Linked DNA regions of Homo sapiens: region 1 is linked to region 2. Evidence: fine-mapped expression QTL. A gene starts in region 2. The other region holds a variant in brackets. All regions are shown on one strand. Distances are between the middles of the regions. Region 1 overlaps MXRA7 (matrix remodeling associated 7). Region 2 holds the start of ST6GALNAC1 (ST6 N-acetylgalactosaminide alpha-2,6-sialyltransferase 1).

The links. PIP is the estimated chance that this variant, and not a neighbour inherited with it, causes the effect.
Region 1: its variant is the best candidate, but not a certain one, in a credible set for the expression of ST6GALNAC1 in whole blood (INTERVAL, PIP 0.85).

The regions. Positions count from the first base shown.
Region 1 is chr17:76,688,994-76,694,373 of GRCh38, forward strand. The region is part of intron 1 of MXRA7 (matrix remodeling associated 7); the gene reads right to left. Among named protein-coding and RNA genes, the nearest start is that of MXRA7, 19 kb to the right of the region's middle. The variant G/T (reference allele first, on the strand shown) is at 2,702.
Region 2 is chr17:76,641,306-76,646,685 of GRCh38, forward strand. ST6GALNAC1 (ST6 N-acetylgalactosaminide alpha-2,6-sialyltransferase 1) reads right to left here and starts at 2,452. Exons shown (of 9, transcript NM_018414.5): 1 at 2,203-2,452. The coding sequence starts at 2,333.

The sequences.
Region 1 (5,380 bases), 48 kb after region 2:
AAGTTTTTACAAGCCCCACAGCGGGTCGGAAGTGGCAAACCCAGAGGGGCCTTGAGCTCCTCTGAGTGACTTTTTGTTTGTTTGGTTTCTGTTTTTTTCTGAGTGTGTTTCTGAGACAGAGTTTTGGCTCTTGTTGCCCAGGCTGGCGTGCAGTGGCGCGATCTCGGCTCACTGCAACGTCTGCCTCCTGGGTTTAAGCGATTCTCCTGCCTCAGCCTCCCGAGTAGCTGGGATTACGGGCGCCCGCCACCCAAGCCCAGCTAATTTTTTTGTGTTTTCAGTAGAGATGGCATGTCACCATGTTGGCCGGGCTGGTCTCGAACCCCTGACCTCAGGTGATCCGCCTGCCTCGGCCTCCCAGAGTGTTGGGATTACAGGAGTGAGCCACTGTGCCTGGCCTGAGGGACTTCCTTGACTACACAAAATGCTGCCTGGGGGGAGCTGCGCAGGCAACACAGCGTCTTCCCTGTTGGGCACTTTGTACACACAGACTTAGTGCTATCTATGGCGAAGTGGTGCCTGTGTGTCCTGACGTTTCCCAAATTTTGCACAGCAAAGTATCTCTATGGCTGAGGTCGGAGTGGGCAGGCCTCTTCCGGGGGCAGGAAGAGGAGCCGCTCCATTTGACACAGCAAACCCACTTCTAGGGATCTGCTCCAGACTGGAGAAATGTCCATCAGGATTTTTATATAATGACTCTGACCGCGTGCAGTTGAAAAGACAGAACTGGGGACCGGGTGCGGTCGCTCACGCCTGTAATCCCAGAATTTTGGGAGGCCTAGGTGGGTGGATCAGCTGAGGTTGGGAATTCGAGACCAGCCTGGCCAACATGGCAAAACCCCGTCTCTACTAAAAATACAAAAAAAAATTAGCCGAGTGTTGTGGCAGGTGCCTTTAATCCCAGCTACTCAGGAGGTTGAGGCAGGAGAATCGCTTGAACCCGGGAGGTGGAGGTTGCAGTAAGCCAAGATTGCGCCATTGCACTCCAGCCTAGTGACACAGCAAGACTGCATCTTAAAAAAAGAAAAAAAAAAAAAAAGGAGGCGTTGATAGGTGCTGACATGAAAAGTACATCAAGATAAATCGAGGGAAAAATGCAAGCAGCAGCCCCACGTGAGCAGCGCAGTCATCTTGCTGTAAATGGCAAAGTGGAAATGCACGCATGTGCTCGAAAATGCAGAGAAAAGGTTTGTTTTTTGGAAGGGCCCACGAGAAACTGTCAGCAGTGGCTACCTCTTGGGAAAGGAGCTTGGGGGGCAGCTTTTCCTTTCCGTCTTATAGAGTTCAGTATAATTTGGACTTTCCATTAATATGCATGAATGACTAAATATATTTTTTAAATGCTAATGGTGTCTTTGGACAGTCAGATCCAAAGACCCCATTTTTTCTTTATTTATTTTCTTATATATTCTAAAAAAGAAAAAAAAAGTAAGAGGCCAGGTGTGGTGGCTCATGCCTGCAATCTCAGCACTTTGGGAGGCTGAGGTGGGAGGGCTGCTTGAGCCCAGAAGTTCAAGACCAGCCTGGCAACATAGTGCACACCTCGCCTCTACTGAAAATTTAAAAATTAGCTGTGCATGGTGGCACGCACCTGTGATCCCACCTACTTAGAAGGCTGAGGCAGAAGGATCACTTGGAAAAAAAAAAGTAGAAAGAATGTAACATCCTAAATATATATATATTTGGTTTCGGCCCCCAGTTCTTGACACAGTTTTTATTTTGTTTGTTTTTTGAGACAGGATCTTGCTCTGTTGCCCAGACTGGAGTGCAGTGGTGCAATCACGGCTCACTGCAGTCTTGACCTCCAGGGCTCAAGCGATCCTCCTGCCTCAGCCTCTGGAATAGCTGGGATCACAGGTGCATGCCACCATGCCCAGCCCTGACACTGAGCTCCTAAGTCCCTTGAATTTCCTAAGTTACAGGGGTGCTAGCAGCATGTTTTGTTCTAACATTTGGTTTTGATCCCAGTCCCTGGCACAGAGCTCCTAAGTCCGTTGGAATTTCCCGGGTGACAGGAGTGTCTTTTGTTCTAATGAGGTAACTCCTGGGTGGGCTGATCACCAGAGAGATCAAGCTGCAATGAGGAGCTTGGAACTTTCAGCCCCACCACCCCCCAGCTTCCTCCAGAGACTGGAGAGGAGCTGGAGATTGAGTTAAGAATCGATGACGCCTATGTGATGAGGCCTCCGTCAACATCCCGATAGGGTTTGGAGAGCTTCCAGGCTGCTGAATGCATTCCCGTGCGCAGGGGGTAGCGTACCCCAACTCCATGGGGACGGAAGCTCCTGCATTCAGGACCCTACTGGACCTTACTCTACTTAGGTACCTCCATCTGGCTGTTCATCTGTAGCCTTTATCACTTCCTTTCTAATAAACCAGTTAACATAAGTGCTTCCCTGAGCTCCGTAAGACGCTGTAGCAAATTACTCAACTTGAGGAGGGGTTCATGGAACCCTTGATTTGTAGGCAAGTAGGACCAAAGTGTGGGGAACGAGGGGACCTGATACTTGTGATTGGCCCCTGAAGTAGGGGGCAGTCTGTGGGACTGGGCCCTAACCTGTGGGGTCTGCACTGATTCCAGGCAGTTAATGTCAGAGTTGAACGGGAGGACACCCACTTGGTGTCTGGGTGGCTGGAGAAGGTGTTGGTTGCAGGGGTGGGGCTGGCTGCATATTTGGTATCAGAAGTGAAGGGTTCTGTG[G/T]AGTGTTGTGTGCATGGACAGAAAAACAGTTGGTTTTTCTCATGGTTGATGTCTCTCTTTAATGACAGGCAAACAGTCACTGACCTATTCAGGGCACGGCCCCGGAACTAAGCCCAATATCAAGAATAGACAGGAGGCCAGTTCTCCTATTATGTGCAAAGGACACAAAGATTAAATGAAAAACAACAGCAACAATGAGCACAGTCCCTGCCTTACGGAGCTCGTGGTCCAGTAGGAAAGACAAACAAATAATTGCACTCCAGGGCGAGGAGTCCATGAGCCAGGGCAGATCCGTATCCCCAAAGGACCCAGTATCAGCTGACGTGCCCAAGCCCTCCTGAGCACAGAGAGGCTGGTACACATTTAGATTCTGGGCCAGGCACAGTGGCTCACACCTGTAATCACAGCACATTGGGAGGCCGAGGCAGGTGCGTCGCTTGAGCCCAAGAGGTTGAGGCTGTAGTAAGCCATGGGGGTGCCACTGCATTCCAGCCTGGGCAAGAGTAAGACCCTGTCACCAAAAGAAAAAAAAAATTGTACTTGACTTTGGAAGTCTGATTTTTTCTTTTTTTTTTTTTGAGACAGTTTCACTCTTGTTGCCCAGGTTGGAGTGCAATGGTACGATCTTGCCTCACTGCAGCCTCCACCTCCCAGGTTCAAGCGACTCTCCTGCCTCAGCCTCCCGAGTAGCTGGGACTATGGGCATGTGCCACCACACCTGGCTAATTTTGTATTTTTAGTAGAGATGGGGTTTCTCCATGTTGGTCAGGCTGGTCTCGAACTCCCGACCTCAGGTGATCCGCCCGTCTCGGCCTCCCAAACTGCTGGGATTACAGGTGTGGGCCACCGCGCCCGGCCTGGAAGTCTGATTTTTAAAAAGCTGTGGTCATGACCCATTGATGGGTCAGGAAAGCAAATGAGAAGGCCTTACTAGTATTGTTAAAAAAAAAAAAAAATGGGCGACCAAAGTCTTGGTGAAGTTTGAGGCTTTAATAACTTCAGAAGTATAGATACTACAAATGTACCAAAAAATGACATTTGAAAGGTTATTTACATTTAAAATACCTTGATATCTCTCACTCAGATTCTTACAGTACCCCCTCTAGTGCTATACATGGCTCTAGTTGTTCAAACTTCGAAAAACCTTTTATCGACTGTTGGTCAGTGACGGGAAAAGATTGCACTGGTGATTCCAGCTTCACCAGGTTCCAAAGAACTGGATTTTGTGCACACGTGACCTCAAGGGAGGTCAATTCAGCCCAGGAAAGGGGTCCTTTGCCTGCCTGTCCCTCCAGACACTAGCACATGCGGAGAATTAAAATGAAAAAATCTAGCACTTGACTGTCAGGAAACTAAGTGGAAAAGAAATTTAAATAAGTAAATATTCAACTGATGTTTTGTAGGTTTGTACATTTAAACATCTGAAGTTATTTATTAAAACTGCACTAAGACTCTGGGGACACCCCTGTATCCCAGAATGAAATAAAAGACAAGGCTGGGCGCGGTGGCTCATGCCTGTAATCCCAGCACTTTGGGAGGCCGAGGCGGATGGATCACGAGGTCATTAGTTCGAGACCAGTCTGGCCAACATGGGGAAATCCCGTCTCTACTAAAAATACAAAAATTAGTTGGGTGTGGTGGTGCACGACTGCTTCAGCTACTTGGGAGGCTGAGGCAGGAGAATCGTTGGACCCTGGGAGGCGGAAGTTGCAATGAGCTGAGATCACGCCACTGCAATCCAGCCTGGGCAACAGACTGGATTTTTTTTTGAGATCTGTCTCAAAAAAAAAAAAAAAAAAGAAAAAGAAATTAAAGACAAACAGTGTTTTGTGTGTGGTAGAGTTAGATACTGGTTTATAAAACTTCTGGGGCCAGGTGAGGTGGCTCACGCCTGTAATCCCAGCACTTTGGGAGGCTGAGGCAAGTGGACTGCTTGAGCCCAGGAGTTTGAGACCGCCCTGGGCAACATGTCAAACCTCATTTCTACAAAAAAATTACAAAAATTAGCTGGGCATGGTGGGATGTGCCTGTAGTCCCAGCTGAGGCTGAGGTGGGAGGATCACTTGAGCCCAGGAGGTCAAGGCTGCAGTGAGCCGAGATCACACCACTACACTCCAGCCTAGGTGAAAGAGTGAAAGCCTGTCTCAAACAAAAGAAAACAAAACAACAACACAACAAAAAACTTCTGGTGTAGCTGTGTGACTTTATATACAGGATGTAATTTAAAATTTCTTTCTTATTGTGACACCTAATTAAAAAAAGCTTGAAAACACTGCTCAATTGGCCATTTATTTTGTTGTCTGTGCAGAAATCCCCTGTTCTTTTGGAAGTTGTCCCTTGAATCCCGTGGCCCCAGTTGGGGCGGTCAAACCCTCCCCCTTCCATCTACTTATCTGGATGGGCGGGGGCATAGGCCCAGGAGCCCAATTTCTGCTTGGGGGACAAGGACCCTCTGGGACCAGAGCAGTGAGCTGCCTAGAGTGGGCCCGGGTGGAGAGACTCGTTGGAGAGCCCCCTCCCCTACCATGTGCTTGTCCTGAGGCCATTCCACCCTGCCTTTCCCTGCCTGAGAACCGCTCCATTCCAACTCCCACAGCCCCTGGACCACGGTGTCCGCCATCCACTGACACCTCTCCTGTCCACCACTCACCACACTCAGACTTTGCAGGCCAAGAACAT
Region 2 (5,380 bases):
AATAAATCCTCCTCAACCCTTCAGTCTCTCTGATTCCTAAATTATCCCACTGCATTTAGAAGTATTGTAACATATATGATAAAAAGGTTAATATCCCTAATATACAAAAAGCTCCTACAAATATGAAAAAAATAATAAAAAGGAAGAAAAGATATGAACAGGTCATTCATAGAAAAGTACAAATGACTAAGAAAGTTAAGATTCTCAATACATCAGTGATCTGAGAAATGCAAATTAAAAAGAGAAACACTTTCACCTATCTGATGATTAAGACTTCAAAACCCTAATGAAAGCCAGTGTGGTCCTGGGAGGTAAAGTAAACTTGCACCTGTCAGTGTAGCATTCTGAGACAACAATTCAATGGTGTCCACTGACATTTCATGTAAACATATGCATTGTCTTGGCAATTCCACTTCAAGAAATCTACCCGGAAATCACTTACGCAAGTGCTCAAAGGTATGTGAGAAACTTGATAGGGGTTGGTTAAGTAAACAGTACCTACCCTGTGGAATGCTAAGCAACTGTTGAAAGAAGGGAGTGGACCTGTATGTCCCGACATGGAAAGATGTCCATGATATAGTGTGACTTACAAGGTCAACCTGTGGAACAATATGTAGCATGAGATACATATATATGTATATATACGTATATATGAGATATATATATAAGCTCTCTTGTGCATATATATGTAAATCTATATGATATATATGTGTATATATCTATATCTATATATACAATATATCTATATATACATATCTCTCATGCTACATATTGACATATAGTATATCAATATATAGCGTATATATTGTATATATATCTCCATACTATATATAGATATCTATATCTCCATCTATCTATCCATCTATCTGTCCATCTATCTGCCTATCTCTCTATCTCTCTCTCTCTCTATCTGCCTATCTATCTATCTATCTATCTATCATCTATCTATCGGGCTTGTATAGCATAAAGGTAATGAGCACAGGGTATGGCACCAAAATGCCTGGGTTTGAATCTTGGCCCTGCCGCATACTAGCAGGGTGACCTTGGGAGAATCACTTCAGTTCTGTGTATCTCAGTGTCCTAATAATGAGAATTAGTGAGTTAACGTATATCAAGCACTTAGAATAGGGGCTAGCTCATAGTAAATACTATAGCAGTGTTAGCTACATAATAATAGAATTCCGTGTACCCTCAAGTGTCAAGAGTGGTCACCTTGAAGAGTGGATAGAGGTGGAGGTATAATAGGGAGACCCTCACTTCCTGCTTCACCTTTCTGTATTTTTTTTAACTCTATGAGAACCTGCATTACTTTCAACGTTTAGGAACAGTGAAATGAAATTATTGGCTGGGCGCAGTGGCTCACGCCTGTCATCCCAGCGCTTTGGGAGGCCGAGGTGGGTAGATCACTTGAGGTCGGGAGTTCAAGACCAGCCTGGCCAACATGGTGAAAACCTGTCTCTACTAAAAATACAAAAACTTAGCCAGGCCTGGTGGCATGCGCCTGTAGTCCCAGCTACTCAGGAAGCTGAGGCTTGAACCTGGGAGGTGGAGGTTGCAGTGAGCTGAGATCATGCCACTGCACTCCAGCACTCCGGCAGCAGAGTGAGACTCCGTCTCAAAAAAAAAAAAAAAAAAAAGAGGGCCTCTCACTGCTGGAGATGTGTGTATTTTCTAAGAAAAATGGTCTAGAAGGTATTTTTGAAGGATTAACTTGGCGTCCACAATTGAAACTGCATCCCTAAGAGGGAGGCTCTCCATTTTAACTGACAAACTTAGGGTGAGTCCGGGTCTGAAACAAGTGGAACACACAGCATGGCTCTTTCGCTTCAGGACGTAGAGAATGGCATGTAAGAACTAACCCAGTGCTGCTGCCATTACTCACAGTCCCAGAGGGGAAAGCAGTCATGTCTTCTGTCTGCACTCTGCAGACCTAACCCATCAGTTCTCAAACTCCTGTACGTGTCCCACAGTATCTGGACATGTCCATCCCATGCGTCTTGGTTGCCCACTGCCACCCTTTCTGTTCCCTGCAAGTCTTCCCATTAGTCTTTCTTCCCAGTGCTTCTTGAGAACACTCCTGACCCCTGACACTCCCATGTGGACACACAGGTGGCTCAGACTTCCCCAGTCCTCCCTGGGCTATCATTTTTCTGTTTCCTCAAATGAATGAAATATGAGGAGTGGAAAGGACAAGAATCTTACCTGGAAGGCTTTGTTTGAGGCTCCTTAATAAAAGAGGGCAAGGCGAAGAGAAAGAAGACCAGGACAGCCAGAAGCAAGGACCACTGGACGCCTTGGCTCAGGTGCCTGCATCTCCACAGGCAGGACCTCATGGTGGTGGGTCGGGTTCTAGAGGAAGGTTCTGCATGTCCTGGGGCCTTGATGTAGGCAGCTGGGAGTCTCACCGCTCAGGTTTCCTGGCCAGGAAGTGCACACCCTTTGTCTTAACAATGAGCCACTCCGGCAAGTGCTGAGTTTATCAGTCTCTGCCTGGGAAGGGAGGAACCGCCTTCACTGCTGTATGAAGGCTTATAAGCTGGCGTGGCTTAAAGGAAGGGAAACTCCTTGTGTTCAAACATGTTTACCTTCCTTTTTTGTCTTTGAAGCCAATATCTGAAAGTCAAGCTTTATGAGAAATATAACCACATTATATGCAGTCTCATCTTGGTCAGGTTACTTAACCCATCTGCCGCCATATAAATGGAAAAAAGCAGTTATCTTCCTTTTGGGATTATCATGAAGACACCTTGAGGCCACCATGCACAGGGCTTTGTTTGTGGTAGGCACCCAACACACATGTTCAACACTTTAGCTCAACCTTCTCTGTTTCTCTTCTGAAATCATGACCATTACAACAATGACCAGCACGTATGAGGGCTCACTCTGAGCTGGGCAGTGGGGAGTCTTCACAGGCACTCATGGAACCCTCACAGCCACTCTAGGGGCTGGGTACTGTCATCACCTCCATTTGACAGAGGAGGAAATGGCCTCCAAGAACAAGCTGCCAGCCCAAGAGCACATGGTGAGCCACTGGCTTGGGGTCCAGATCCAACTGACCTAGAGATTGCATTCTTTTTTTAAGAAATAGAGATGGGTCTCAGTATGTTGCCCAGGCTGGTCTCAAACTCCTGGACTTAAGTGATCCTCCCACCTCAGCCTCCCAAAGTGCTGGGATTACAGGCATCGGCCACCATGCCCAGCCATGATTGCATTTTTCTTTCTTTTTTTTTTTTGAGACATTCTCACTCGTTGCCAGCCTGGAGTGCAGTGGCGCAATCTTGGCTCACTGCAACCTCCGCCTCCCGGGCTCAAGTGATTCTCCTGCCTCAGCCTCCTGAGTAGCTGGGACTACAGGCACCCAACACCACACCCGGCTAATTTTTGTATTTTTAGTGGAGACGGGGTTTCACCATGCTGGCCAGGATGGTCTCGATCTTCTGACCTCATGATCCACCTGCCTCGGCCTCCCAAAGTGCTAGGATTACAGGTGTGAGCCACCGTGCCTGGCCGATTGCATTCGTATCCACTGCTTAGTAGCACCTACGAGAAATCATTAACTCTACCTTGATCAAAGCAATGCAAAACAAAACCCACATAATTCTTGGGAAAAAAAAGTACACCTCAGAGGAAAAACATCAAGACCATTTGTAGAAAACTTTAAAAATTCAGAGAAGCAGCCCTCCATAAAGTACTGTGAGTTAGTAATTTTATAAAAATATTGTCCAGGGTGTTGAACTGTGGGAGAGGTTTTGGAGCCTGGGCTCACTGTTCACACCTGGCGGTGGGCATTTCTCCTAACGTACAGTTTTCAGTTCTGTACACAAGGCTCTTGGCCTTCACCCATGGCACGCACCGATAAATGATTAAACCACCTTCCTCAAGGAGGACGAAAAAGGCAGGAACATACGTCTGAGCAGCTGAGGGTAATACAGACGACTGATGGTTTCCTTTATCCCCTACTGTACACTGCAACTCACAGCACTGTTTCAAGTCATGGTGGCAAGGAGAAACATCTCTGTTAGTACTGACTCAACCTCTCTCTTTCTCTCTCACCGTGCCTAACCTACAGATGCTCATATGTTAACTCTATAAACATTTTCTGAATTGATCTGTATCAAGTCATAACTCTTTGTCCTAACTGGCCCCTTATCCTGAGTTCCTTTATGCACTTGACATGTACAATTATATTCCTGTATCCTGGTGCCTGCTTGCAACGCTATGCAAATAAGTGCACAGTGAAAAGGCATGTTCTTACCCACAGTACTAGTGTGACTAAATAGAGTATCTCTTTCATCGTGCCCTGTGTTCTGAAGAAGGCACTGGCTGTCAGTGCTCGCTGCCTTCCGCAGGGCATGGAGATCCAGCTGAGCTCCTGGGTGCAAGCTGAGCTACTGTGGACAATCTGTCCCTCTCGCCACATTAGAGGCAGGTTGAACTTGAAGACCTTGTGGCCAACTGGTGTGGCAGGATAATCCAGAGTCCTAGTTTCCTGGTTCTCAGGTTCCAGCCCACTGCTGCTGTAGCATGTGCCTGGGCAGAATGTGGGATCCAGAGAAGTGTGTGTTTTAGGAGAAATTGACTTTCCAATTATTTTGTTTTTGCTTTTTGAGACAAGGCCTCTTTCTGTCATCCAGGCTGGAGTGCAGTGGTGCAATCATAGTTCACTGAAGCCTTGAATTCCTGAGCTCACAAGATCCTCCTGCGGCAGCCTCCCTCCAAAGTAGCTGGGATTACAGGTGGGTGCCACCACACCTGGCAAATTTTTTTTGTAGAGATGGGGGGGTCTTGCTATGTCGTGCAGTCTGGTCTTGATCTCCTGGTCTCAAGCGACCCCACTTCAGCCTCCCAAAGTGCTGGGAGCACTTCATGTGAGCCGCCACGCCCAGCTGCCAATTATTTTTTAAACATCGTCACAATTTTGTGTTTGGTAAGATCTACCTTTCTCTCCTTTTTATTGTTTTATTTTATTTTATTCTCTTAAGCTCAATGGCAAAAACTTTTTCTCCTTTTTAAACTAAAGCTTTGAGCTTGAGTCTTTGAACTTTAGTATACATCAGCTGATGGGACATGTGAGAACTTACATGCAGATAAGAGTTGTTAAAAGATAATTTTCAGTAAAAGGTAAAATCATTACTCAAATAGATAGAAGACATAAAAATGTGCTAAAGATTTGATTCTACTCATGAGAGGACCAGGCAGATATAATAACCAGTTCAAAAGAGAAGTGCATGAGCACAAAGTAATTTAGATTGTTTTTCATTTGCTTCTTTCAAGATTTTTCTCTATCTTTGGCTTTCAGTATTTTGACTATGATGTGTCTGTGTGGGTCTTCCTGCATTTATTCACTTGGAGTTTCTGGGATCTATGTATTAGTGTTTTT